7 linked regions of the Homo sapiens genome follow. The protein of the gene in region 6 purifies or fractionates together with the protein of the main gene of each other region. This does not show direct contact. Each region holds a gene or a part of one and is shown on either strand. Other genes may lie near its edges.

The links.
Region 1: the proteins of NOP58 (region 6) and UTP14A fractionate together in Homo sapiens (co-fractionation; 2 studies listed by BioGRID). This does not show direct contact.
Region 2: the proteins of NOP58 (region 6) and ITM2B purify together in Homo sapiens (co-immunoprecipitation; one large-scale study listed by IntAct). This does not show direct contact.
Region 3: the proteins of NOP58 (region 6) and ZNHIT6 purify together in Homo sapiens (co-immunoprecipitation; 2 studies listed by BioGRID and IntAct, with this or other methods). This does not show direct contact.
Region 4: the proteins of NOP58 (region 6) and NOL6 fractionate together in Homo sapiens (co-fractionation; one large-scale study listed by BioGRID). This does not show direct contact.
Region 5: the proteins of NOP58 (region 6) and DDX24 fractionate together in Homo sapiens (co-fractionation; one large-scale study listed by BioGRID). This does not show direct contact.
Region 7: the proteins of NOP58 (region 6) and AGPS purify together in Homo sapiens (affinity purification with mass spectrometry; one large-scale study listed by BioGRID and IntAct). This does not show direct contact.

What each region holds. Positions count from the first base shown.
Region 1 is NC_000023.11:129,923,164-129,926,663, forward strand, and holds part of UTP14A (U3 small nucleolar RNA-associated protein 14 homolog A), read left to right. Parts: intron 1-1,631; coding exon 1,632-2,032; intron 2,033-2,755; coding exon 2,756-2,949; intron 2,950-3,076; coding exon 3,077-3,176; intron 3,177-3,500. UniProt on the Homo sapiens protein: May be required for ribosome biogenesis.
Region 2 is NC_000013.11:48,257,206-48,260,705, forward strand, and holds part of ITM2B (integral membrane protein 2B), read left to right. Parts: intron 1-920; coding exon 921-1,031; intron 1,032-1,591; coding exon 1,592-1,742; intron 1,743-3,500. UniProt on the Homo sapiens protein: Plays a regulatory role in the processing of the amyloid-beta A4 precursor protein (APP) and acts as an inhibitor of the amyloid-beta peptide aggregation and fibrils deposition. Plays a role in the induction of neurite outgrowth.
Region 3 is NC_000001.11:85,698,434-85,701,933, reverse strand, and holds part of ZNHIT6 (box C/D snoRNA protein 1), read left to right. Parts: intron 1-3,500. UniProt on the Homo sapiens protein: Required for box C/D snoRNAs accumulation involved in snoRNA processing, snoRNA transport to the nucleolus and ribosome biogenesis.
Region 4 is NC_000009.12:33,463,925-33,467,424, reverse strand, and holds part of NOL6 (nucleolar protein 6), read left to right. Parts: coding exon 1-31; intron 32-162; coding exon 163-311; intron 312-437; coding exon 438-513; intron 514-715; coding exon 716-856; intron 857-999; coding exon 1,000-1,117; intron 1,118-1,199; coding exon 1,200-1,354; intron 1,355-1,527; coding exon 1,528-1,691; intron 1,692-2,065; coding exon 2,066-2,218; intron 2,219-2,448; coding exon 2,449-2,546; intron 2,547-3,263; coding exon 3,264-3,388; intron 3,389-3,500. UniProt on the Homo sapiens protein: Part of the small subunit (SSU) processome, first precursor of the small eukaryotic ribosomal subunit.
Region 5 is NC_000014.9:94,071,203-94,074,702, reverse strand, and holds part of DDX24 (ATP-dependent RNA helicase DDX24), read left to right. Parts: intron 1-3,500. UniProt on the Homo sapiens protein: ATP-dependent RNA helicase that plays a role in various aspects of RNA metabolism including pre-mRNA splicing and is thereby involved in different biological processes such as cell cycle regulation or innate immunity.
Region 6 is NC_000002.12:202,282,763-202,286,262, forward strand, and holds part of NOP58 (nucleolar protein 58), read left to right. Parts: intron 1-1,582; coding exon 1,583-1,719; intron 1,720-3,500. UniProt on the Homo sapiens protein: Required for the biogenesis of box C/D snoRNAs such as U3, U8 and U14 snoRNAs. Part of the small subunit (SSU) processome, first precursor of the small eukaryotic ribosomal subunit.
Region 7 is NC_000002.12:177,497,273-177,500,772, forward strand, and holds part of AGPS (alkyldihydroxyacetonephosphate synthase, peroxisomal precursor), read left to right. Parts: intron 1-416; coding exon 417-493; intron 494-2,345; coding exon 2,346-2,458; intron 2,459-3,500. UniProt on the Homo sapiens protein: Catalyzes the exchange of the acyl chain in acyl-dihydroxyacetonephosphate (acyl-DHAP) for a long chain fatty alcohol, yielding the first ether linked intermediate, i.e. alkyl-dihydroxyacetonephosphate (alkyl-DHAP), in the pathway of ether lipid biosynthesis.

The sequences.
Region 1 (3,500 bases), on a different chromosome or scaffold from region 6:
GCCAGATCTAAGGAGCTACAATGGCTTCATGCCAAAGCTAGACAGCAGGATCAACTTGGGAATGGAGGCAACTTGAGTCAATGAAAAAGACAGTTTAGAAGCATGTCACTGCCAGGTTTCCCTCCAGACTGTTTTGAGACAGGTCTCTGTCATACAGGCTGGAGTGCAGTGGTGCAACCTCGGCTCACTGCAAGCTCCACCTCCCAGGTTCAAGCAATCCTCCTGCCTCAGCCTGCAAGTAGCTGGGATTACAGGCATATGCCACCACGCCCAGCTAATTTTTGTATTTTTAGTAGAGACAGGGTTTTGCCATGTTGGTCAGGCTGGTCTCAAACTCCTGGCTTCAAGTGAATCACCCATTTCGGCCTCCCAGAGTGCTGGGATTACAGGTGTGAGCCACTGTGCCAAGCCAGCCCCTCCAGACTCTTGAGACTAGTGTTATTTGCTCAGATGTTGCCAGTGAAAGTGTGAGCTACATCCACTGGATAAAGCAGCTACTTCATCCCTTGACTCAGCCACAGCAGATTATGAAATACTGCTTTAAGATATGGAGTAGAAATTCTTGAGTCAAGATGAAAATCCTGGATAGGGTTTTTACAAGCAGTGAAGCATAAATTACAATGAAGTTACATTGAGAAGCCACCTGTTAAAGTGGCTTCCTTTTTTAAAATTTGGAACTTGGGGCAATCTTCCCAAGCAGGGTTTACTGCACGAGGAACTTAAGCCACAGTCCCAGTTATACAGTGGATCATTGGCAAAGCTGGGAATAGGACCCAGGACGTCTGCTTCCAATATGCTACTTTTTTTTTTTTTTTGAGACGTCTTGCCCTGTTGCCCAGGCTAGTATGCAGTGGCACAGTCACAGCTTCCTGCAGCCTTGACCTTCTGGCTCCAGCAATCCTCCCAGCTTAGCCTCCCAAGTAGGTGGGACTACAGATCCACACCGCCATGCCTGGAAATTTTTTGTTGTTGTTGGAGGGGTGGAGGTGGTAGAGATGAGTTCTCACTATGTTGTTCAGGCTGGTCTCGAACTCCTGGGCTCAAGCTATCCTGCCCCCTTGGCCTCCCAAAGTGCTGGCATACAGGCGTGAGCCACCATATCCAACATCTCACATGCTACTTTTTTTTTTTTTTTTTTTTTGAGACGGAGTCTCGCTCTGTCACCTAGGCTGGAGTGCAGTGGCACAATCTCGGCTCACTGCAACCTCTGCCTCCCTGGTTCAAGTGATTCTCCTGCCTCAGCCTCCTGAGTAGCTGGACTACAGGCACATGCCACCATGCCCAGCTAATTTTTTGTATTTTTAGTAGAGATGGGGTTTCACCGTGTTAGCCAGGATGGTCTCGATCTCCTGACCTCATGATCTGCCCGCCTCGGCCTCCCAAAGTGCTGGGATTACAGGTGTGAGCCACCGCACCTGGCCACATGCTACTTTTAATTACCAAACTCCGTTGCCTGCTATGATTAGTGTACTGTCTAGGAGATTCAATGTACAGAATCTTCTTTTCCCCGTTTGTCCTTTTTATAATGTCTTATGTGGTACCTAGCACTTGGTGGGTGCTCAACAAATGCTTACCGACCAGACAACGTACAAACCTCATTTTCTGACAGTTTTCATTCTTTTTTCCCCCAGATTCTGGCAGCCAGGAGGTGCTGTCTGAATTGAGAGTACTATCTCAGAAATTGAAGGAAAACCATCAGTCCAGGAAGCAAAAAGCAAGTTCAGAGGGGACTATTCCCCAGGTCCAGAGAGAGGAACCTGCCCCAGAAGAAGAGGAGCCCCTGTTGCTACAGAGACCAGAGAGAGTACAGACGCTGGAAGAGCTAGAAGAGCTGGGAAAAGAAGAATGTTTTCAAAATAAGGAGCTTCCCAGACCTGTGTTAGAAGGGCAGCAGTCAGAGAGGACCCCAAATAATCGCCCTGATGCCCCTAAGGAGAAGAAAAAGAAGGAGCAAATGATCGACCTACAGAACCTCCTAACCACACAATCTCCCTCCGTGAAGTCTTTGGCAGTTCCCACAATAGAGGAGCTGGTGAGCAGAGCCAGGGTGGTGGGCCATTGTTCAGAAAGTGTCGTTCTTGCGCAAGGAGTAATGAAGCTTTGTTTTGCTGGGGGCACATTTCAGTAGTTTAGAGGTCCAGAATAGTATAGGGCCAGGCTAGTCCCAGTGACGTTTTAATAGATGCAGATATATGGGTGCTGCCAAGACCCCTATTTCCGAAAGCCTGATCCACAAAAACTCCTCTGGGGTGACTCTAAAACTGCTCTCAGAGGTAAGAGGGAGTAACTCAGAGTTCTGACCAGATCCCAGGCAGGACAACTTGAAGGTGAGTCATTGAACTGTTGCGAAAGTTTTATTCAGTGGGATCTCAGATGGTCTAAGACTCCCCAGTTAATCTGAAACTTAAAGTGAAGCGTCCTGGCACCTGTCTTTTCAGGGATATAAGCTGGAGGAAGCCTACAGTCTGGCCACTTAGAGCTCCTGCTGCTAACACGGGCCATTCCTTCCTCCACCCTGCAGCTTCCTTACTGAAAAGTTTAAAATTGTGTCATATGATAATGAGCTAGGGATATTTACCCTAGAGGGAAGAAAATTTGAGCATGATTGGCTGTGCACTGGTTTGTATCGCAAGACCATCATTGTTCAGCACTTCCCCCTAGGGGGCGCTAAAATGTCACGACCCGAAATTCAAGCGTTCTCGCCATGAACCACAGCTCATAAGCCAAGCTGTAGCTCTCGCTTGTTTCTTCCCAGGAAGATGAAGAGGAGAGAAACCATAGGCAGATGATAAAGGAAGCTTTTGCTGGGGATGATGTCATCAGAGATTTCTTGAAAGAGAAGAGGGAAGCTGTGGAGGCGAGTAAGCCAAAGGACGTGGACCTGACACTACCTGGCTGGGGCGAGTGGGGTGGTGTGGGCCTAAAGCCCAGTGCCAAGAAAAGACGCCGGTAAGAATGCCGAAGAAAGTCTGTCAAAAGGGCACCGGGTTCTCCCCTCGCCCTTCGGTGTCCTCCCTACCCTTTTGACTAAGTCCTTAATGCTCCTAGTCAGATGTCCTGTTGTTTTGCTTTCCAGGTTTCTCATTAAAGCCCCTGAGGGTCCTCCAAGAAAAGATAAGAATTTGCCAAATGTGATTATCAATGAGAAGCGCAACATCCACGCAGCTGCTCATCAGGTGAGAGCTTAGAGAGCTCTTTAGCTGCCTGCTTGTTACTGCCTGGCTCTCTTGCTTGAGAGGAGTATTCTAGTGATCTGTAGTCAAGAGAGACGTGTGATCTTGACCGCAGAATCAAATCTGTTGTTTTCACTGAATGGCTGTTAGATTTATCATTTCAGATAGACTACGCTGTTTTAATTACTGGCCAGGAAAAAAGTTTAGAGTCAAGGTAATGCTCAAACAGAGGCTATAAGGTTTAAGCTGTAGCTTAAGAAAAATGAAGACAAACCGGTACTTGTTCAGGAGAATGAGAAGATTGTAAGTTGTGTCACATGATAATGA
Region 2 (3,500 bases), on a different chromosome or scaffold from region 6:
TGCTGTACTCACCTAGGTATTTGTGGACTGTAGTTAACTAAAGGTAACTGAAACTCGAGAAGCACAACCTCAGATAAGAGGGACTACTGTATTTAATATGTTTACATTTCTGTTTATGTTTACATTTCCCCAATTTTTGTCCCAAGAATTTTTTGTTTTTTCAAATCAGGATTCAGAGATTCAGAAGTTCATGTATCACCTGTGATTTTTATGTCTCTCTGTAAGCTTGCCATTTTGAACACTCGAATATATTACTGAAGTTAGCTTTGCAAACATTTCGTGCCTGATAAATACATCTGATGGATGTTTATAAACCAGTTTGAAAATTTACTTATTTCAAGGAAATAAACTTCCAAAGCAAATAGTAAATAATAATAGTTAACACTTACTGAGCTCTTAGGAATCAAAATGTTGACATTATTTGATTTAAGTTATTCTTAAAAACCGTTCTATGAGACAGTCTTTCTCAACCAGCGTTTCTCATTTGAACCACAGAACACAAAATCATTTAAATGACTGTTTTTCTAATGTTCTAAGGATGGTAGTATTCAAGATACATATGAGAAAATTTAATCTTTACAAACAATGGACAGATAACCTTAGAGGGCATTTGAGCTTATAAGTGGGGAAGTTAAATTGCTTAATTATATAATAAGTATTTGCAGTTAATTTGAATAGGTATTATTACTTATTATAGAAATATACCCTCGATGAGCATTTTATTTACTGGTAGCAATATTTTTTCCTCTCCCATTCCCACTTCCAACTTTATCCAGCCAAATTCTGAATTTGTTGAAATGCAAGTGATTTATACATTCTAAAGCCAATTCATTTTAATGATACAAATTATTCTTAAAAATCCAGTTGCTGCCTGTTTTTGCAAGTATTACTGTAACTACACTGTATCTTTTTCTTCCCAGAAACTTACAGCCTATTTAGATCTTAACCTGGATAAGTGCTATGTGATCCCTCTGAACACTTCCATTGTTATGCCACCCAGAAACCTACTGGAGTTACTTATTAACATCAAGGTATAAGAATGTTGACTGTTTTTGATGAATGATGCCTTCATAGTGTTCTGGAATTCCCTGTTGAGAAATTAGCCCTATAGGAGCCCATTTTATCAGACTGTAGTTAAGAATTTTACAAAGAGGAACTAATACTCATGGTTTTTGTTTTTAATGTTTTATATCTTGAAATTGAAATAAATTTCTCAAATAATGTTTTAAGTTTTCCTAAAGAGCCAGGGAGTAAATATTAGCCAACTACTTAATTCTGGTGCCATAGACAATACGTAAAACAGATGAACATGACTATATTCCAAAAAAAATTCTACTTATAAAAACAAGCCGGGGGCGGTGGCTCATGCCTGTAATCCCAGGACTTTGGGAGACCTAGGTGGGAGGATTGCTTGAGGCCAGGAATTTGAGACCAGCCTGGACAACATAGTGAGAACATAAACAAACAGATGGTGGGTAGTAGTTTGGCAACCTGTTCCATACCATAATGTGTAAGAATTTTGTCTTGTTTCTCTAGTCTACTCAGTGTATGTTCTGAGATAGTCATGTCATGTATTCTTTTCTGAATGTAGGCTGGAACCTATTTGCCTCAGTCCTATCTGATTCATGAGCACATGGTTATTACTGATCGCATTGAAAACATTGATCACCTGGGTTTCTTTATTTATCGACTGTGTCATGACAAGGAAACTTACAAACTGCAACGCAGAGAAACTATTAAAGGTAATACTTTTTAAATATTAAAGTGTTGGGCAGAAAAGTTCATTGCATTAAACTAGATTTAGGTGAAGCCTAGTCATTGTTACCAATATACCTGCCATGAGTGAGGTAATATTGTGTCGTTATATAATATTTCCAGGTTTCTATAGAATTATCTTAATTCCATTTAGTAAGTCCACTCTTTTCAGGTGGAGAGAAAAGGTCAATGTGAAATGTCATTGCCTTGAGATGATGGTACCTCATTTTCCATCTAGTTAGTCACCCTGTCCAACTTCCCATCCTACCACTTTGGTTGAGCCATACTGAAAGGGTTTTTATTATCCAGAGGGTGTCTTGGGACCAGCTCTTCAGCTGTGTTTTCAGGGATCTGGATTCTAAGCAGGCTGTTTGCCTTTTGGATCATATTGGGAATAATCACTGTCAGGGTAGTTGGAAAGGAATTTGGGTGAAGAACTAAGAGCATTGATACAACTAATGTTGTAGCTTTGCCAAATCATTTAACTTTTATTTTCTCACCTGAAATATAAGAATTACAGTATCTCCCCATTTCCTTTTAAGAGCATTGTGAAAATAAAAAGAAAGTACATGTGGCAGCTGTGGAAAGTAAGAAGTGCCATTCAGATACACTGTGGTGTGATTTCTTTGGAATTGTGTCACCCAGTAAAAGTGCTTTCCTGGCTTTTTGCTAGCATTTTAAATAATACTGTTCTCTCATCTCCGGCGGTTGAGTCATCTGAAACCAGCTTGATTTCTTTTTTTTTTTTTTTTCCAACTTTTATTTTAGATTCAGGGGTACATGTGCAGGTTTGTTACAAAGGGTATATTATCTGATGTGAGGTTTGGGGTACAGATGATCCCATCACTCAGGTAGTGAGCAAAGTACCCAATAGGTAGTTTTTCTTTTCTTTTCTTTTTTTTATTATACTTTAAGTTCTGAGTTACATGTGTACAATATGCAGGTTTGTTACATAGGTATACAGGTGCCATGGTGGTTTGCTGCACCCATCAACCTGTCACCAAATTAGGTATTTCTCCTAATGTTATCCCTCCCCTAGGCCCCCACCTCCCGACAGGCCCCAGTGTGTGATGTTCCCCTCTCTGTGTCCATGTGTTCTTATTGTTCACCTCCCACTTATGAGTGAGAAGATGCAGTGTTTGGTTTTCTGATCTTGTGATAGTTTGCTGAGAATGATGGTTTCCAGCTTCATCCACGTCCCTGCAAAGGACATGAACTCATCCTTTTTTATGGCTGCATAAAATTCCATGGTGCATATGTGCCACATTTTCTTAATCCAGTCTATCTTTGATGGACATTTGGGTTGGTTCCAAGTTTGCTATTGTGAGTAGTGCCACAGTAAACGTACATGTGCATGTGTCTTTATAGCAGCATGATTTATAATCCTTTGTGTATATGCCCAGTAATGGGATTGCTGGGTCAAATGGTATTTCTGGTTCTAGATCCTTGAGGAATTGCCACACTCTCTTCCACAATGGTTGAACTAATTTACACTCCCACCAACAGTGTAAAAGCGTTCCCCAATAGGTAGTTTTTCAACCCTTACCTCCTCCCTCCCTCCCTCCCTTCCTTATAGTCCTCAGTATGTATCATTCCCATCTTTATGTCAGTGAGTTCCCAGTGTTTAGCTCCTATTTATAAGTGAGAGCATTGTAAGGTAGGTATTTGGTTTTCTGTTTCTGTGTTAATTCATTTATGATAATGGCCTCCAGCTGTATCCATACTGCTGCAAAGGACATGATTTC
Region 3 (3,500 bases), on a different chromosome or scaffold from region 6:
CATTTGAGAAGCTTCTCAAACATTAATGTGCATACCAGTCACCTAGGCATCTTGTTAAGTATGCTTGTTGTGATTTTTCAGTAGGCCTGGGTTGGAGTTTGATATTGGGCATTTCTAACAAGCTCCTCAATGATGCTCATTGTTTGAGAAACATATTTTGAGTAGCAGCGCCCTGGAACACTCTCATACATTAGAAATAAACTGTTTCTTTGAGAACTAAGATACCAAGAAAGTATTTCAGGGGCTTCCAGGACAAAACGAGTAAAAACAGGACGCCTGTACTGTTTTAATCAAGGCAGCTCTGCTTTTATTTTCTTTCTCCACTGGGTTTCCAAATAAGATTTCAATTAAAAGCTGTCAATGTAGAAGAAGGGGACTTTGAACTCTTGAGTACAGATAATATAACAGAGATTAGTTTGCTGCTGTCTGAAAATGTTGGGTTGAAAAGGCCCCAAGAGTACAGAAGAGAACAGGATCCCAAAGTTCTTTAAGTAGCCAACTAAATTATCAGATAATACCTTTCAGAAGTCAAGATTTTGGATTTAGAATTTTTAAAAACTTGAGGGAGTCCCTCCCTTTTCAGCCTCTTAGTAACTGTGGGGCCTTGAACAAATCAACTTCCTTTCTCTGGGCCCCAGTTGTATGATGTGGGGAGTTGACCCGGGTAAACTACGGAGCCTTTCCAGTTGTACTCTTCCAAAAATTGAAAAGACAAAGCCATCAGAATTATCATTATTCTAGTGAAGCTTCTATCTTTTCAAAGCTGTTATCATAATTAGAAGATGACGTTTTCCATTTATTTTATATAAGACATAAACATTTGTAAAAATGGTTTTTCGTTTTTCCTGGTTGTCTTCGAAAAGTAAAGTAATGCTGAAGCAGGTGGATCCCTTGAGGCCAGGAGTTTGAGACCAGCCTGGGCAACATGGTGAAACCTCGTCTCTACTAAAAATACAAAAATTAGCCAGGTGCAGTGGCACCCACCTGTGATCCCAGCTACTCAGGAGGCTGAAGTGGGAGCATCCCTTGAGCACAGGAGGCGGAGGTTGCAGTGAGCCAAGATTGCACCACTGCACTCCAGTCTGGGTGACAGAATGAGACCCTGTCTCAAAAAAAAAGTAAAGTAATGTCTTGCATTTATCAAATGTGAGATGATTCTTTTGTGCGTTTTGAAACTGGCATATTTAGAAATTGACATAATTTGAAGTTTATGGTAACTGGTTAGAAGTTTATGGTAACTGGTTAGTGCTTTCTCAAATACAAAATGTGTTCCTGTTTTATGAAAGAAACTATTCAGAATGATTGTAATCAGAGATTAGTTCTCAGTAATGAAAAGCAGATGGCCTCAAGTATAACATTTTTGTGTCTGTAGGTACATGAATGTATGCGGGAAGTTTTTACCGAGAATATTACACTCAGTATATTTTCCAGGTTTAATATATTTTTGGTTGTTTTGAAACTCCCCGGGTCTCTGAAATGGCAAATCAGATTCTTCTTGCATAAGTCTTTTGCTCATAAATTTATAGAGATTTGTGATCAGTTTTCTTACATTTTTAGTGTTTCCCAGGAGGAGATTAGCAACATAGTATGTACTAATAGGCTTTAGAATCCATTTCTTAGTCTTTTACCGTCTGCAAAATGGAGCTCATGATAGCTACCTTGTAGAGTTGTGGCCTTTTAGTGTATTAATTCACATAGGCAGTAACTGGCATGTGGGAAGGAATCAGTTTATAGTAGCTATTGTAAAAATAATACATCTGTATCATTAAAAAGTTTAAAGGAAAAATATCACCTATAATTCCACTATCTAGAGTTGACCACTAATAAAATTTCGTAACATTTCCTTCTAATCATGTTTTCTCCTTTTTTCATCTAATAAAGTAAAACATAATATAAAATACTTAAAACTATATAAAGTGACATGACTCTGCTCAAGTTAAACATTAATTTTTTATGAATAAATGCACCTCCTTTTTTCCTGCAGCTAGATTTTCCATTTAGCAATACATTGTGAACCTCTTTTCTTGTTAATGCAAATCTGCCTCATTCTTTTTAAATAGGGTATTCCACCTTTGACTATATCTCATTTCATTTAATTATTCCGATATTCATGAACATTTATTTTATGTCTTGTTTTTAATTATTATACATAACACGGTATTAAACAGCCTTGAACAAATTGTTTTGTGTGCTTACCTGACTTTTTTTTGTAGGATCAATTCCTAGAAAGCGGAATTACTGGATTAGAGAGTACAATGTATTTAAACTTTTGAGAAAAACTCTACATTGTCTCCATAAAACATTACCACTTTGTACTTTCATCAAGAAAGTATGAGTGCCTATTTTAGTTATACCTTAACTTTTGTTGAATATTACCAAATTTTTTTGTGGGCAGCTTTATTAGAGAGGTTGAGCTCTTGGATTTTTAATTTCTTGTTAAGACATTGCCAGATGTCCACTGCAGGAGGCAGAATCACCCCCATTTGAAAAGCACTGATTTACATAAATACAGAAGATGTACTTATTGAATGTATAGTTCTAATCTTTTCTTGGTCCAGATAATTAACATAATGTAGACAGAATCAGGATTCTGGTGTTTTATACTTCACCTTTAAGAGGAAAAAATAGACATTTAAGAGTTACTTTGTTTGAGATATTTGTGTCTTATCAGCTGTTCATATGAAAATGAGCAAGGTTTTAGATGATTGCAATGGTATTTGCTGGAAAGAGGGAAGAAGGGGAAATGAAATTTTTTCAAAGAATTCTGTTCAGCTCCCATGCCCCCAGTATTCTAAGAGACTAGTTTTCAATACTTTTTTCTATTAACTTTTCAAAAGTTGGTTATAGCTTTGACTCTGATAAATGTAAATTTTCATGTTGTCTCTACTATTTGATTATACATTAGGTGACCTTGGGCAAAATCTGACTTACCAGGTTATTGAGAGGATTAAATGAAATTTTAATACCAACTAAAGTAGTACCTGGCACATACTAAATAATATACAGTGACAATGAAAATTTACATTCCCTTCACTGAAATCCTTAGGAATATGCCACATTTACTGTATATTCCATTCACCCCTCATAGGTCTGGGATAGCACTGTGTAATCAAACAGTACTATTTGTGCAGTGAAACCTATAAATGTTTACCTTATAATGGGTAAATAATGACTATAGATTTATTCAGTTAGGTTTTGCTGCTGAAGGAGTTAAAAATCTTTCAGTTTTGGAGATTTTGGAATTGTTGATATGAGAAGTTGGTCTTGTCCTAAGATTATTAATACTCCCTAGGTATTAAATTGATTGCTTGTTTAAGCAACTTGAGTTGCAATATAGTCAAAATCTCAAGTTGATGTCGCTTAAAATTTACATGTTTTCACTTTTGAGGAATCTGAATGAAGAATCTTTTGTACTGTTTTTGTAACTTTTCTATAAAGTCTACATTTATTTTTTTTAAAAAAAGTTTTAAATGTAAAAGCCCGTATATGAAGTGTGATGA
Region 4 (3,500 bases), on a different chromosome or scaffold from region 6:
TGAGCTGGGTCCAGAGGCAGACCAGCCTGAGGTGGGGGACCCCAGCATGTACACTGGAAGGAATGGGGTGGCTCGTCCTCATGGCACCTGGACTGAAGCTTGTTGGGGAGGGTCCACAGAGCCCTTCCTTCCCCAGCTCTACTACCACCCTTGCCTCCTCAGGCTGCTAAATTCCGCCAGTTCTGGGGATCCCGCTCGGAGCTTCGGCGTTTCCAGGACGGAGCCATTCGGGAAGCTGTGGTCTGGGAGGCAGCCTCTATGTCCCAGAAGCGCCTTATTCCCCACCAGGTGGTCACCCACCTCTTGGCACTGTGAGTGTTGGCATCTGGATTCCAGAAGGCAGTGTGGGCTGGGGAGCCTTTTCAGGGGTCTGGCCCAGGCAGTTGAGCGAGAACATAGCCCCAAATTTTCTCACTGTGTCTCTGCCTCTTTTTCAGCCATGCTGACATCCCAGAAACCTGTGTCCACTATGTGGGGGGCCCCCTGGATGCACTTATCCAAGGCCTGAAAGAGGTAAGGGTCTTGGGGTCAAGGCTAGTGATTGTAGAGTAATCAATCTGCGGGGAGAGAGTCCTCTCAGCCTTGGCCAGCTTGCACTTCCTGGCATGTCCAGCAGGCGGCGGTGCTGGCTCTGCTGCAGCCTGAGCTGGGGCAGAATCCAGGTGAAGCTGGCCTTCTGTAGGGTCCAGCCTCCTGACCGTCTTCTCCCTCTCAGACCTCCAGCACAGGTGAGGAGGCCCTGGTAGCGGCGGTACGTTGCTACGACGACCTCAGTCGCCTACTGTGGGGGCTAGAGGGTCTCCCACTGACCGTGTCTGCTGTTCAGGGAGCTCACCCAGTGCTGCGCTACACAGAGGTGAGGTGCAACGGTGCAGGTGACCTTTCTGCTTAGTGGCCCCACCTCTGCTCCAGTCACCCAGTATTCCCCACTTCCAACTCCTGACTCTGGGCACTCCCTCCCAGTCCTAGGCCCATTCCTCAGCCCCTCTTCTTCCACAGGTGTTCCCACCAACTCCAGTCCGTCCAGCCTTCTCCTTCTATGAGACTCTGCGGGAGCGGTCCTCACTGCTGCCCCGGCTCGATAAGCCCTGTCCGGCCTACGTGGAGCCCATGACCGGTAAGAGGGCCCTTGGGAGGGAGTGGGAGGGATAGTTCCAGCTCCAGGCCACAGTATGAGACCTCTGACTCTTCTTCCTCAGTGGTTTGTCACCTGGAGGGCAGTGGCCAGTGGCCACAGGACGCTGAGGCCGTGCAGCGGGTCCGAGCTGCCTTCCAGCTGCGCCTGGCAGAGCTGTTGACACAACAGCATGGTCTGCAGTGCCGTGCCACTGCCACGCACACGGATGTCCTTAAGGTTAGGCTGGTGCAGGCAGATATGTCCCCAGGGAAGGGGGGCACCAGGGATGTCAGGGCGTGGAAGAAGACACCCCTGTGGGTACCACGCTGGGTAATAGGGCTGTAGGCCACAGAGTACTCCCGGGGTTCTGGGCTGACACATCCTTCTCTTTCCATACCTTCTTCCAACAGGATGGATTTGTGTTTCGGATTCGCGTGGCCTATCAGCGGGAGCCCCAGATCCTGAAGGAGGTGCAGAGCCCAGAGGGGATGATCTCGCTGAGGGACACAGCTGCCTCCCTCCGCCTTGAGAGAGACACAAGGCAGTTGCCACTGCTCACCAGTGCCCTGCACGGGTAAGGCCACTGACACAGCTTCTTCCTGTCTGTAGGCCCCCTCCTGCCCCCATTCTCCTCACCTAGCCACCTGTCTCTCCAGGGGCCAGATGGTATCATAGTTAGGGGTATGAGTTCTGGAGTCAGGCAGGTTCTGGAATCCTGGCTCTGCCACTTACTGACTGTGACCCTATGGTCAGATTTTCCTCCTTGGTCCCTATATTTGTCATCTGTAAAATGGAAATAACACTAGGGTCAACTTCTTGGTGCATTTCTTAAGAGAATATGAGATTACATATGTAACCTATTATCACTGAGGCTGGCCTTGGGTAGGGGCTGGATGAACAGTGGCAGTGGGGCCCTGAGTCTCGCTGACACTCCCCTTCTCTCTGCAGACTGCAGCAGCAGCACCCAGCCTTCTCTGGTGTGGCACGGCTGGCCAAGCGGTGGGTGCGTGCCCAGCTTCTTGGTGAGGGTTTCGCTGATGAGAGCCTGGATCTGGTGGCCGCTGCCCTTTTCCTGCACCCTGAGCCCTTCACCCCTCCGAGGTGATTCCCTCCACTTTTTCCCCAGCTGAGAAGTTTCCTTGCGGCCAGCCATCATCCTTCGTGCTGCACCCTAAGTCTACATGGGAATGGGTGGTTGAGCAAGTGGCAGAAGGGGTTCTAAGATGCCCTGCCCTGCCAATCCACACCAGGGGGTCTGAGCTCCATAGCCTGAGAGAAGCCTGGGGATATGTGGCTGGGCCCTGGATTCTTTGCTTACTCCAGCCCTTTAGTTCCCCCCAGGTTGGCTTCCTTCGATTCCTTTTCTTGGTATCAACGTTTGATTGGAAGAACAACCCCCTCTTTGTCAACCTCAATAATGAGCTCACTGGTAAGTGGTAGAACAGGGGTCAGACTGCTGGAAGAACAGCTCTTTATGGATTGCAGGCAAGGGTTTCCCTGGCAGTGTTAGGTTTTCTCTGTGCCTCCCCAGCCCCAGATGTCTAAGCCTGACATGAAGAAGAGGTCCAGGTGAACAGCCTGACCATTATGACATGGTTTGCTCTTAATTGTCAGAGACAGAATGATAGGGTGGTAAGCAAGCTACCTGGCGGGGGGCTGTGGAAGGAAGAGGAGAATAGAAGGGGGATCCTGAATACCACGTAAGAAGTATTAGGGCACGGAGCTAGGAAGTGTAGCACAGATACTCAGACCTCTTGGTGGGGGTGGGAGTGGTGATTTCTGGTTGTAACGTGAGGCACTCGGTCTCTGCAGAGAGCAGGGTGTCAGGTTCCTAATTCCCCAGGTGTGTGGAAGCCCATGGTGGGAGGGGGCCAGGGGCAAGACTCAGCTTGTGCAGGCCCGGAAACCAGACTGGGGGTGCCAAGCAGTGGAAAATTTTGCCTCTGGGCTGAGGTTGGGCGATTAATGCCCCACCCAGTTGAGGCAAATGCGATGTCCCTTTCGTCACCTTTGCCACTTGGTGGGGGGGAGTGTTGAAAAATACCTGTGATGAGCAGCCGTTGGGGGCACCGTAGGAGGACCTGGGGGAGTAGAGGGTGTCTTACAGGGAGGAGCAGGCTGACCCAGGACCCATTCTTGTCTCTAGTGGAGGAGCAGGTGGAGATCCGCAGTGGCTTCCTGGCAGCTCGGGCACAGCTCCCCGTCATGGTCATTGTTACCCCCCAAGACCGCAAAAACTCTGTGTGGACACAGGATGGACCCTCAGCCCAGGTTCAACCCCATACCTGCCCCCTAATGTGTGGTTTTCTTCCCAAGGAAAAAGCAGGCCCAGCCTGACCTGGGAGAGACCCACTTCAGTTCCAGTCTGATGTGTCTGTACCCC
Region 5 (3,500 bases), on a different chromosome or scaffold from region 6:
TAGCAGAATTTTGAATTGTAGTGGTAAAGTGGGCATTATTGCTTTGTGTTTGATCTTCTGGGGAAAACATTTAGTCTTTCACCATTAAGTCTGATCTTAGCTGTAGGTTTTTTGTAGGTGCTTTTTATCACGTTGTGGAAGTTCTCTTTGATTTCTCATTTGCTGAGAGGTTTTATCAGGGTTGGATGTTGGATATTTTTCAAATGCTTTTTTACTGCATATATTGAAATAGGTGGTTTTTCATTTTTAGTCTGCCAATGTGGTGAATGACATTGATTTTCAATTATGAAATTAGACTTACATTCCTGGGATAAACTGAACTTGGTCACAATATACTATTCTAATTATATTTTGTTGGATTTGATTTGCTAAAATTTTGTTGAGAATTTTTGAACTTATGTTCATGGGATAGTTGTAGTTTTCTTGTAATGTTTTGGTGTTGGAATCAGTAATGTAGCTTCAGAATGATTTCTGAAGTATTCTGTTCAGTTTTCTGAAAGAATTTATACAGGATTGACATTTTATACCCAACTTAAATTTTTGGTAGAATTCATCTGAGCCTGCACTTGTCTTTGTAGGAAGATTTTTGACTACAAATTTACTTTGTTTAATAGATTAGAGATATTTGTGTTACTTATTTTTTTCTTTTTTTTTTTTTTTGAGATGGAGTCTCGGTCTGTTGCCCAGGCTGGAGTGCAGTGGTGCGATCTCAGCTCACTGCAAGCTCTGCCTCCTGGGTTCACACCATTCTCCTGCCCCAGCGTCCCAGGTAGCTGGGACTACAGGTGCCCACCACCATGCCCGGCTAATTTTTTGTATTTTTAGTAGAGACAGGGTTTCACCGTGTTAACCAGGATGGTCTCAATTTCCTGACCTCGTGATCTGCTCGCCTCGGCCTCCCAAAGTTCTGGGATTACAAGCATGAGCCGCCACACCCGGCCACTTATTTTTTTCTTGAGTGACTGTTTTCTACTTGCAGTTCTATTAGTTTTTGTTTCATGTATTCTGACAATCAGTTTATGTGAATACATGTTTTATGGATTAAAATATTAGATTATTATTATATCCTCTAAATGAATTGGCTTGTTATCGTTATGAAATGGCCCCCTTTATCCTTAGTAATTTTTTTTTGTTCTAAAATGTCCTTTGGTATTGATGCAGCCAGTCCAGCTTTATTGATTAAGGGGTTAGCATGGTATGTGTTTTTCAATACTATTACTTTCCCTTATTTATATTTAATGTGAATTTCTTATAGGCAGCATATAAATGGGTCTTGCTGTTTAATCAGACAGTTCGTGTCTTTGAGTTGAATTATTGAAGCCAGGCATGGTGGCTCACATCTGTAATCCCAGCACTTTGGGAGGCCAAGGCATGTGGATCACTTGAGGCCAGGAGTTCAAAACCAGCCTGGCCAACATGGCGAAACTGTCTCTACTAAAAATACAAAAAAATAGCCAGGCGTGGTGGCATGTGCCTGTAGTCCCAGCTGCTTGGGGGGCTGAGCCACAAGAATTGCTTGAACCCAGGGGGCGGAGGTTGCAGTGAGCTGAGATTGTGCCACTGCACTCCATCCTGGGTGACAGAGTGAGACTCTATCTCAAAAAAAAAAAAAAAAAGAAAAGAAAATTAATTGAGTTACTGAGATTATTTACGTTTAATGATTATTGATAATGGTGGGTTTACTTATTTATTTTTTGACTGATAGCATACCTGATTTATTTATTTTTTTCACATTTCTGTTTTTTATTTTAAATTTTTTTTTCCTTTTCTATGTTTAGATGTTTATTTTTAATTTTTTTAAATTTTTCCATAAGTTATTGGTGTACAAGTGGTATTTGGTTACATGAGCAAGTTTTTTTGTTTGTTTGTTTTTTGAGACGGAGTCTTGCTTTGTCACCCTGGCTGGAGTGCAGTAGTGCTATCTCAGCTCACTGCAATCTCCACCTTCTGGGATCAAGCCATCCTCCTTCCTCAGCCTCCCAAGTAGCTGAACTACAGGCATGTGCCACCATGCCCGGCTACTTTTTGCATTTTTAGTAGAGACAGGGTTTCACCACGTTGGCCAGGTTGGTCTTGAACTCCTGAACTCAAGTAATCTGCCCACCTCGGCCTCCCAAAGTGTTGGGATTACAGGCGTGAGCCACTGTGCCAGTTTAGTGGTGATTTGTGAGATTTTGGTGCACCTATCACCCGAGCAATATACGCTACACCATATTTGTAGTATTTCATCCCTTGCCCCTCTTTCATTCTTCCCCCCAAGTACCCGGAGTCCATTGTATCATTCTTATGCTTTTGCATCCTCATAACTTAGTCCTGCATATCAGTGATAACATACGATGTTTGGTTTTCCATTCCTGAGTTACCTCACTTAGAATAATAGTCTCCAGTCTCATCCAGGTCACTGCAAATGCTGTTAATCCATTCCTTTTTATGGCTGCATAGTATTCCATCCTGTATATACCACAGTTTCTTTATCTACTCGTTGATTGATGGGCATTTGGGTTGGTTCCATGATTTTGCAGTTGTGAATTGTGCTGCTATAAAATTATGTGTGAAAGTATCTTTTTTGTATAATGACTTCTTTTCCTCTGGGTAGATACCCAGTAGTGGGATTGCTTGATCAAATGGTAGTTCTACTTTTAGTTCTTTAAGGAATCTCCACGCTGTTTTCCATAGTGGCTATACTAGTTTGCTTTCCCACCAGGACATAGAAGTGTTCCTTGTTCACCACATCCATGCCAACATTGTTTTTTTTTTGAGATGGAGTTTCGCTCTTGTTGCCCAGGCTGGAGTGCAATGGCGCAATCTCGGCTCACTGCAACCTCTGCCTCCCGGGTTCAAGTGATTCTCCTGCCTCAGCCTCCCGAGTAGCTGGGATTACAGGCATGCGCCACCATACCCAGCTAATTTTGTATTTTTAGTAGAGACGTGGTTTCTCCATGTTAGTCAGGCTGGTCTCAAACTCCCGACCTCGGGTGATCCGCCCATCTCGGCCTCCCAAAGTGCTGGGATTACAGGTGTGAGCCACTGTGCCCGGCTTTTTTTCTTTTTTTAAGTCAAAGGCTCACTCTGTTGCCCAGGCTGGGGTGCAGTGGCACAATCTTGGCTCACTGCAACCTCCGCTTCCCAGGTTCAAGTGATTCTCCTGCTTCAGCCTCCTTAAGTAGCTGGGATTACAGGTGCCTGCCACCATGCCCGACTAATTTTTGTATTTTTAGTAGACATGGGGTTTCACCATGTTGGCCAGGCTGGTCTTGAACTCCTGACCTCAGGTGATCTGCCCACCTCAACCTCCGGAAGTGCTGGGATTACAGGCATGAGCAACCGTGCCTGGCTGCCAACATCTACTGTTTTTTGATTTTTTGATTATGGCCATTCTTGCAGGAGTAAGGTGGTATCACATTGTGGTTTTGCTTTGCATTTCCCTGATCATTAGTGATGTTGAGCATTTTTTCATGTTTGTTGGCCATTTGTGTATCTTCTTTTGATAATTGTCTATT
Region 6 (3,500 bases):
TCTAGCCACATTTTTTTCCAACGAAAATGGGGTCCTTATATTTTTTAGAAATATATTTATTAGAAAACTTTTAGTAGGGGTGTATTGCTGGAGATGAAATAAAATGTGAGAGTGGAAAGAAAGACTAGGAAAATAGCCTCCCAAATACAGAAAGCAGAACAATTCGGGCGGGGCGCGGTGGCTCACACCTATAATAATCCCAGCATTTTGGGAGGCCAAGGTAGGAGTATCACGAGGTCAGCAGATCGAGACCATCCTGGCTAACACAGTGAAACCCTGTCTCTACTGAAAATACAGAAAATTAACCGGGTGTGGTGGCAGGCGCCTGTAGTCCCAGCTAATTGGGAGTGCAGTGGCGCAGTCTCACAGCTCACTGCAGACTTGACCTCCTGTTCTCAAGCAATCCTCCCTCTTCAGTAGCTGGGACTACAGGCACATGCCACCATGCTGGCTAATTATTTTATTTTATTTTATTTCATTTATTTGAGACAGAGTCTCACTCTGTTGCCCTGGCTAGAGTGCAGTGGCATGATCTCGGCTCACTGCAACCTCTGCCTCCCGGGTTCAAGGGATTCCCCTGCCTTAGCCTTCCAAGTAGCTGGGATTACAGACGCCCGCCAACACGCCCTGGCCTCCCAAAGTGCTAGGATTACAGGCATGTGCCACCACGCCCAACCTGTAATTTTTTTTTTTTTTTAAGACGGAGTCTCACTCTGTCGCTAGGCTGAAGTGCATTGGCTCAGTCTTGGCTCACTGCAACCTCCGCCTCCTGGGTTGAAGTGATTCTCCTGCCTCAGCCTCCCGAGTAGCTGGGACTATAGGCACCTGCCACCACACCCGGCTAATTTTTGTATTTTTAGTAGAGACGGGGTTTCATCATGTTGGCCAAGATGGTCTCGATCTATTGACCTTGTGATCCACCCGCCTCGGCCTCCCAAAGTGCTGGGATTACAGGCGTGAGCCACCGCGCCTGGCATAACCTGTAATTTTAAAAAGAAGCTAAATAACAGGTAGTAAAAGATCTCCTTAAACCAACTACTTGGTCAAATTATATTAATCTTTTTATAGCTTTTAATTTATATAGCCAAGCTGTCTTCTGGAAGCTTGTATCAGTTTTTACTTCCACCAGTGATACAGTCAAGTATTCTACAAACACACTGGAAATTATGCTTCTTGTCCAACTGAGAAATGCGTATATTTAAATTAGTGCCACTTTAATATTTAGGAAATAATTTCAGGCTGGGCGCGGTGGCTCATGCCTGTAATCCCAGCACTTTGGGAAGATGAGGCGGGCGGATCACTTGAGGTCAGGAGTTTGAGACCAGCCTGTACAACATGGTGAAACCCCGTCTCTACTAAAAATACAAAATTAGCTGGGCATGGTGGCTCATGCCTGCAATAATCCCAGGCCGAGACAGGAGAATCTCTTGAACCCAGGAGGCGGAGGTTGTAGTGAGCCAAGATTGCGCCACTGCACTCCAGCCTGGGCGACAGAGTGATACTGTGTCTCAAAAAATAATAATAACAACTTCAGGAAAGTCTTTTTTTTTTTAATTTAATATAGATGTTCATGTTCTTGTAGGAAAAGCTGAATCTCAGTTGTATCCATAGTCCTGTTGTTAATGAACTTATGAGAGGAATTCGTTCACAAATGGATGGATTAATCCCTGGGGTAGAACCACGTGAAATGGCAGCTATGTGTCTTGGATTGGCTCACAGGTGAGAATTACTGGAAAATAAAGTCAACTTACTTTTATTTGATAAGCGCTTAACATAGATCTGTTCTAAGAATGTTACAAATGCTCATTTGAACCACATCAGAACCTTATGAAGAAGATGATAGTAATATCCTCATTTACAGATGAAACTGAAGCCCAAGGTCAATACAGCTGGTAAGTGGTAAAGCCAGGATTTGAACCCAGGCAGTCTGGCTCTATTGTCTGGATTCTTAAAACCTTAAAACCTCATCAAAGGAATTCTCTACTACTCTGATCTTGGATGCCCTGTTTCTTGGGCTTTCCCTCCTTTATCTCTGCTAAGTCATGCCACTCCTCCATCTACTTAGTATTCCCCCAAATTCTCTCATCTGCTATGGTCTTATGGGATAGGTGTGTATTTGTGTTTTCATTGCTTTACTCTGATTTTTAATAAGGCAAAGAGGACTAGGTGCAGTGGCTCACCCCTGTAATCCCAACTCTTTGGGAGACCAGGAGTTTGAGACTAGCCTGAGCAACATAGCAAGAAATATGTCTCTCTCTGTGTTTTTTTGTTTGTTTTGTTTTTGTTTTGTTTTTTTTGAGGCAGATTCTCACTCTGTCGCCCAGACTGGAGTGCAGTGGCGTGATCTCTGCTCACTGCAGCCCCTGCCTCCCAGGCTCAAGTGATTTTCTTGCCTCAGCCTCCGAGTAGCTAGGATTACAAGCGTGCACCACTACTGCCCAACTAATTTTTGTATTTTTAGTAGAGACGGGCTTTCACCATGTTGGCCTGGCTGATCTTGAACTCCTGACCTCAAATGATCCATCCGCCTTGGCCTTCCAAAGTGCTGGGATTATAGGCATGAGCCACCACACCCGGCATTTTTTTTTTTTTTTTTTTTTTTTTGAGTCAGGGTCTCACTCTGTTGCTCAGGCTGGGGTGCAGTGGTGCGATCTTGGCTCACTGCAACCTGGACATCCTGGACTCAAACAATGCCACCTCAGCCTCCCAAGTAGCTGGGACTGCAAGTGTGCGCCACCATCCCTGGCTGATTTTTTAACTTTTTGTAGAGACGGGGTTTTGCCATGCTGCCCAGGCTGGAACTCCCAGGCTCAAGTGATCCACTTGCCTTAGCCTCCCAAAGTGCCGCGACTGCAGGGGTGAGCCACCATGCCCAGTCTTCTCCCTATTTTTAATTGCATGTTAACCCTATCATATTTCATTAGAAGTCCCTTAGAATAGGCATTATTGCTATGTTGTGATACATCTGTTCATGAAAAGCTTAATACTTTGGAATTGCACTACAGTTAACAGGGTTGTGAAGAAAATAATGGTAGGTAGTTGCTCAAAACCTGTGCAACTTTGTAATCAGTACTGTCAAATAGTAATCCTAATAAAATTATTACCACAGTTCAAAAGACATTTTAAGCTAATATTAAAAGAAACACTACAGGCTGGGCACGGTGGCTCACGCCTGTAATCCCAACACTTTGGGAGGCCAAGGCAGGCAGATCACAAGGTCAGGAGATCGAGACCACGGTGAAACCTCGTCTCTACTAAAAATACAAAAAATTAGCCGGGCACAGTGGCGGGCGCCTGTAGTCCCAGCTACTTGGGAGGCTGAGGCAGGAGAATGGCGTGAACCCGGGAGGCAGAGCTTGCAGTGAGTGGAGATCGCTCCACTGCAGTCCAGCCTGGGTGACAGAGTGAGACTCCATCTCAAAAAAAAAAAAAAAAAAGGGAGAAAGAAACACTATAGGCCAGGCGCAGTGGCTCACGCCTGTAATACATCCCAGCACTTT
Region 7 (3,500 bases), about 25 Mb from region 6:
TAGTTCTGAATAGTTTCTATATAATTAAAAAAAAAAGTAAAACCAGCCACCATGGGTGTTCTTAATGAAATAAAAATTAATGAAGTAATTTTATTATGTGTAAACCATACCGTTGAAAGAAAACCTAAACTATGTGTAGTATTAATTACATATAGTGATTTGACTTAAAAAATCAAATTGATAATGGGTTTTGTAAATAAAAAGTTGTTTGTGACATTTGAAAGAAGATAAAAGTAGCAAATATTAATATAACTATATATCGTAATATAAATATTTATGTAAATAACACGGGAAGATTTTAAAAATTAAAGTTGTGAAAACTTTTACTTTCTTTTAGGATTCTAAGTTGGAGTAGCTTCTTGATCTTCTGAAAAACATAGACTAACCTATTAATATAAACTTTTTTCTCTTCTTAGGTCATGCTCTTAAACCTCAGGTTTCCTCTATTTTTACATCATTTTTGGACGGATTAAAAAAGTTTTATATTACAAAGGTAAGAATTTTTATAAAATGCTAAAATTGTAAATGCTTAAGATATCTGTTTTCTGCTTTCTTCCCACATGCACCTATTGTAAGGGTGTTTTTCCATGTTGCTATGTACATTTCAGAATTACAGTTTTTCATGTTGGAATAAATATTAAGTAAATCAGGCAGTCAATTTCAGAAAATTTTATTTCTTTTCCAGTTTTGAAGCTTCTAAAAATAACACTGCATTTGAACAGTTTTGTTTTCATAACATTTTCTATAGTTTAAATTTTTTCCTTTATGGAAGGTATCCATAAAGTGAAATAAGAGTGTGGATTTTTTTTAACCTTTGATTGTTGAATTTTTTTCCTAGAGTGTTAAGCCATCTTATAATACATGTGTGCCTTCTTTTCCTTGCATCCTTGTTATTCCATGTGGGATTCTTTTTGTTACATTTTTAATTTACCAGGGGGAAAACAGTACTTTCTTCTAGTTCATGTTTTTTGAAGCTCCAATGAGACTGAACGTTAACATTTTTTTTATTTTCTAGATCTAATTTTTGTGTGAATTCGTTGGATATGGTTATTTTTGCCAGGTGGTGGTGGGGGGTGTGCAGCTTCATGTTTTTTTCTTGGTACTTTGATGTATCTTTTTTTGAGATTGGAATTATTAGATGTCCTTTGTCATAAATGTTGTAAGTAATTTTTTTTCCCAGTCAGGCATCTCCTTTTTTAATAGGGATTTTTCTTTTTTGGTGTAAAAGTTTCAAATTTTTATATCTTTTCCTGTGATTATTTAATATAGTCTAAGCTTAGAAAAGCCTTCCTTCCTCCAGTAATATGATCAGGGCCATTTTCTTCACTCTCTCTCTCTTATACTAAATGAGAATTTAAAAAAAAAAAAGTCTTTATTACTATTTGTATTTATTTCAATTTTATTATGTGAAAAAGATCTAAATTAATCTTCACCTCCTGCTCCTCCAATTGTTAACCGGTTGTGGCAGCACCATTAATTAATCTGTGCTTCTCATACATTGATTTGCTATGCCTCATATCTTATATACTTATCTAAGAAATAGATTCCATTTTAGTGCATCTCAGTCTTTTTTAATGAGCTTTTTGTTCTTGAAAAATTAAATAGATTTCATTGTTGTAGGTCTATTTTTCCCTCTTGCTATTCAGAATTTTCCTTGTTATCACCATCACCTATTATTCTAGAAAAATTTTAGAAACTTTTCATCATTTTAGGAAGTTCATTGTGTTTTTTAATTAGAATTGGAATAAACTAGTACATTAATTTGGAGAAATATTGACTGGTTTATAATACTTAGTTTATGCATTTGGGAGCATACGTCTTACTCATCTTTTTTTGGATGTGTTTTAGATATGTTTCCTAATATATTTCTTTTTAAGATTGTTAGATACTGTTTTTGTTTTATGCATAAGATCGCCTTTGAAAACTTTATTTAATAAGAAGTTATTGTTAGTATGTAGGGATGTTGTTGATTTTTGCTTCCCGCCCAATATATCCAGCTACTTTATTCTATCATTCTGCAGTTTTTTATTTGATTCTTTATCATAGTTATTATTTCAACAAGTTATTTGTTGTATTTACATAAGCAATATGTTATTATGATTAACACTGTGGCATACTTTGAAATAAAGTGTTTTTTTCTATGCTGAATAGCTTTGCTACGTTGTAATGACCTAAATAGGTTTATTAAACATTCTTAGTGATTGACATGTAAAGTTCCAAAGCTCAATTTTTAAGAAATCAGTGTATTTGAGCCCAGATCAGAAGGAAAAGAGCAAAATGTATTTTGATTTATTGTTTTGTAGGATAAGACTTATCTGTAATAATAAATTTTTTTTTTTTTGTAGTTTAAAGGATTTGACCCAAATCAGCTAAGTGTAGCCACATTACTGTTTGAGGGGGATCGTGAGAAGGTTCTTCAACATGAAAAACAAGTGTATGATATTGCTGCAAAATTTGGGTATGGCTTCAAGTTCATAATGCCAAGAGAAAGAGTTAAAAGCTAAGATTCTAATATCACCAAGCAATTATTAAAGTACTAGGCATTAATGTCTCCAAACAGACTGCATGTCTCAAAGTAGTTATTAATTTCAGTTTAGTGTTAAATTTGTGGTAATTTATGATAGTAAACTTAAAATATTGTTTTGGTTTACATCCAGAATTTTTAGGAAGTTAGATTGATATGTTGCTCTTGTCTAATCATATATATATTATTATTAAACATTGTATTTTTCCTAGATTTTTACATTAATGTCAATTTCATGATATTTGTTCTACTAGAGTAAAATAGAAAATTCATTGTCCTCTTACTCTGTGGTGATAATAGTGTATGTATAAAGCGTGCTACTAGTGTGTTTTTAAAAGGAAATTGTGTTTAATCGAAGGTATTTGATAAATTATCTATACTGCACCCCCTGTCACTTACTGTTTTGTGCTGGTATAAAGAAACAGAAAACATTTCACATCTATAACCAACTGAATAATGGTAGGGTGGTTTCTCTCTGTCTTCTTGATGGATTATAAGACTGATTGATGAGAACTATAGTGAAAATGCCATTTATCAGGACTATGTTTTTTCCTTTCCTTTTAAAGTACATAAACTAACAGTTTCTAGACACTAATCTTTTCTTTTTTGATTTCAGGGATTAAAATATATCATATACATTATGCTTAATATTAGTTCTTTGTAAATATTTATTTTCATTTCTTTTTCATTGTTTTTTAAGAAAACAAATGAACACTTAATTTGGACCCATGTGTTTTAGAATGCCCCACTTTTATGTATTTTTTTTCATATCTAATATTAGCCCTTTATTTCTAGGGTTGTCTGAATTTAGTGTTAACGTGCAGTATTCTTAAAGGGGAAAATAGTCTAATCTTAGACTTAAATTTTAGTTTTCTTTTGCACTATTTTTAAGTATTGAAAATGTCTCACTTTTACCCTATTCTGAAATTGGCAAATGGAATTTTAATTTTTTCAGTAAAAGAGAAAGTTTATTCAT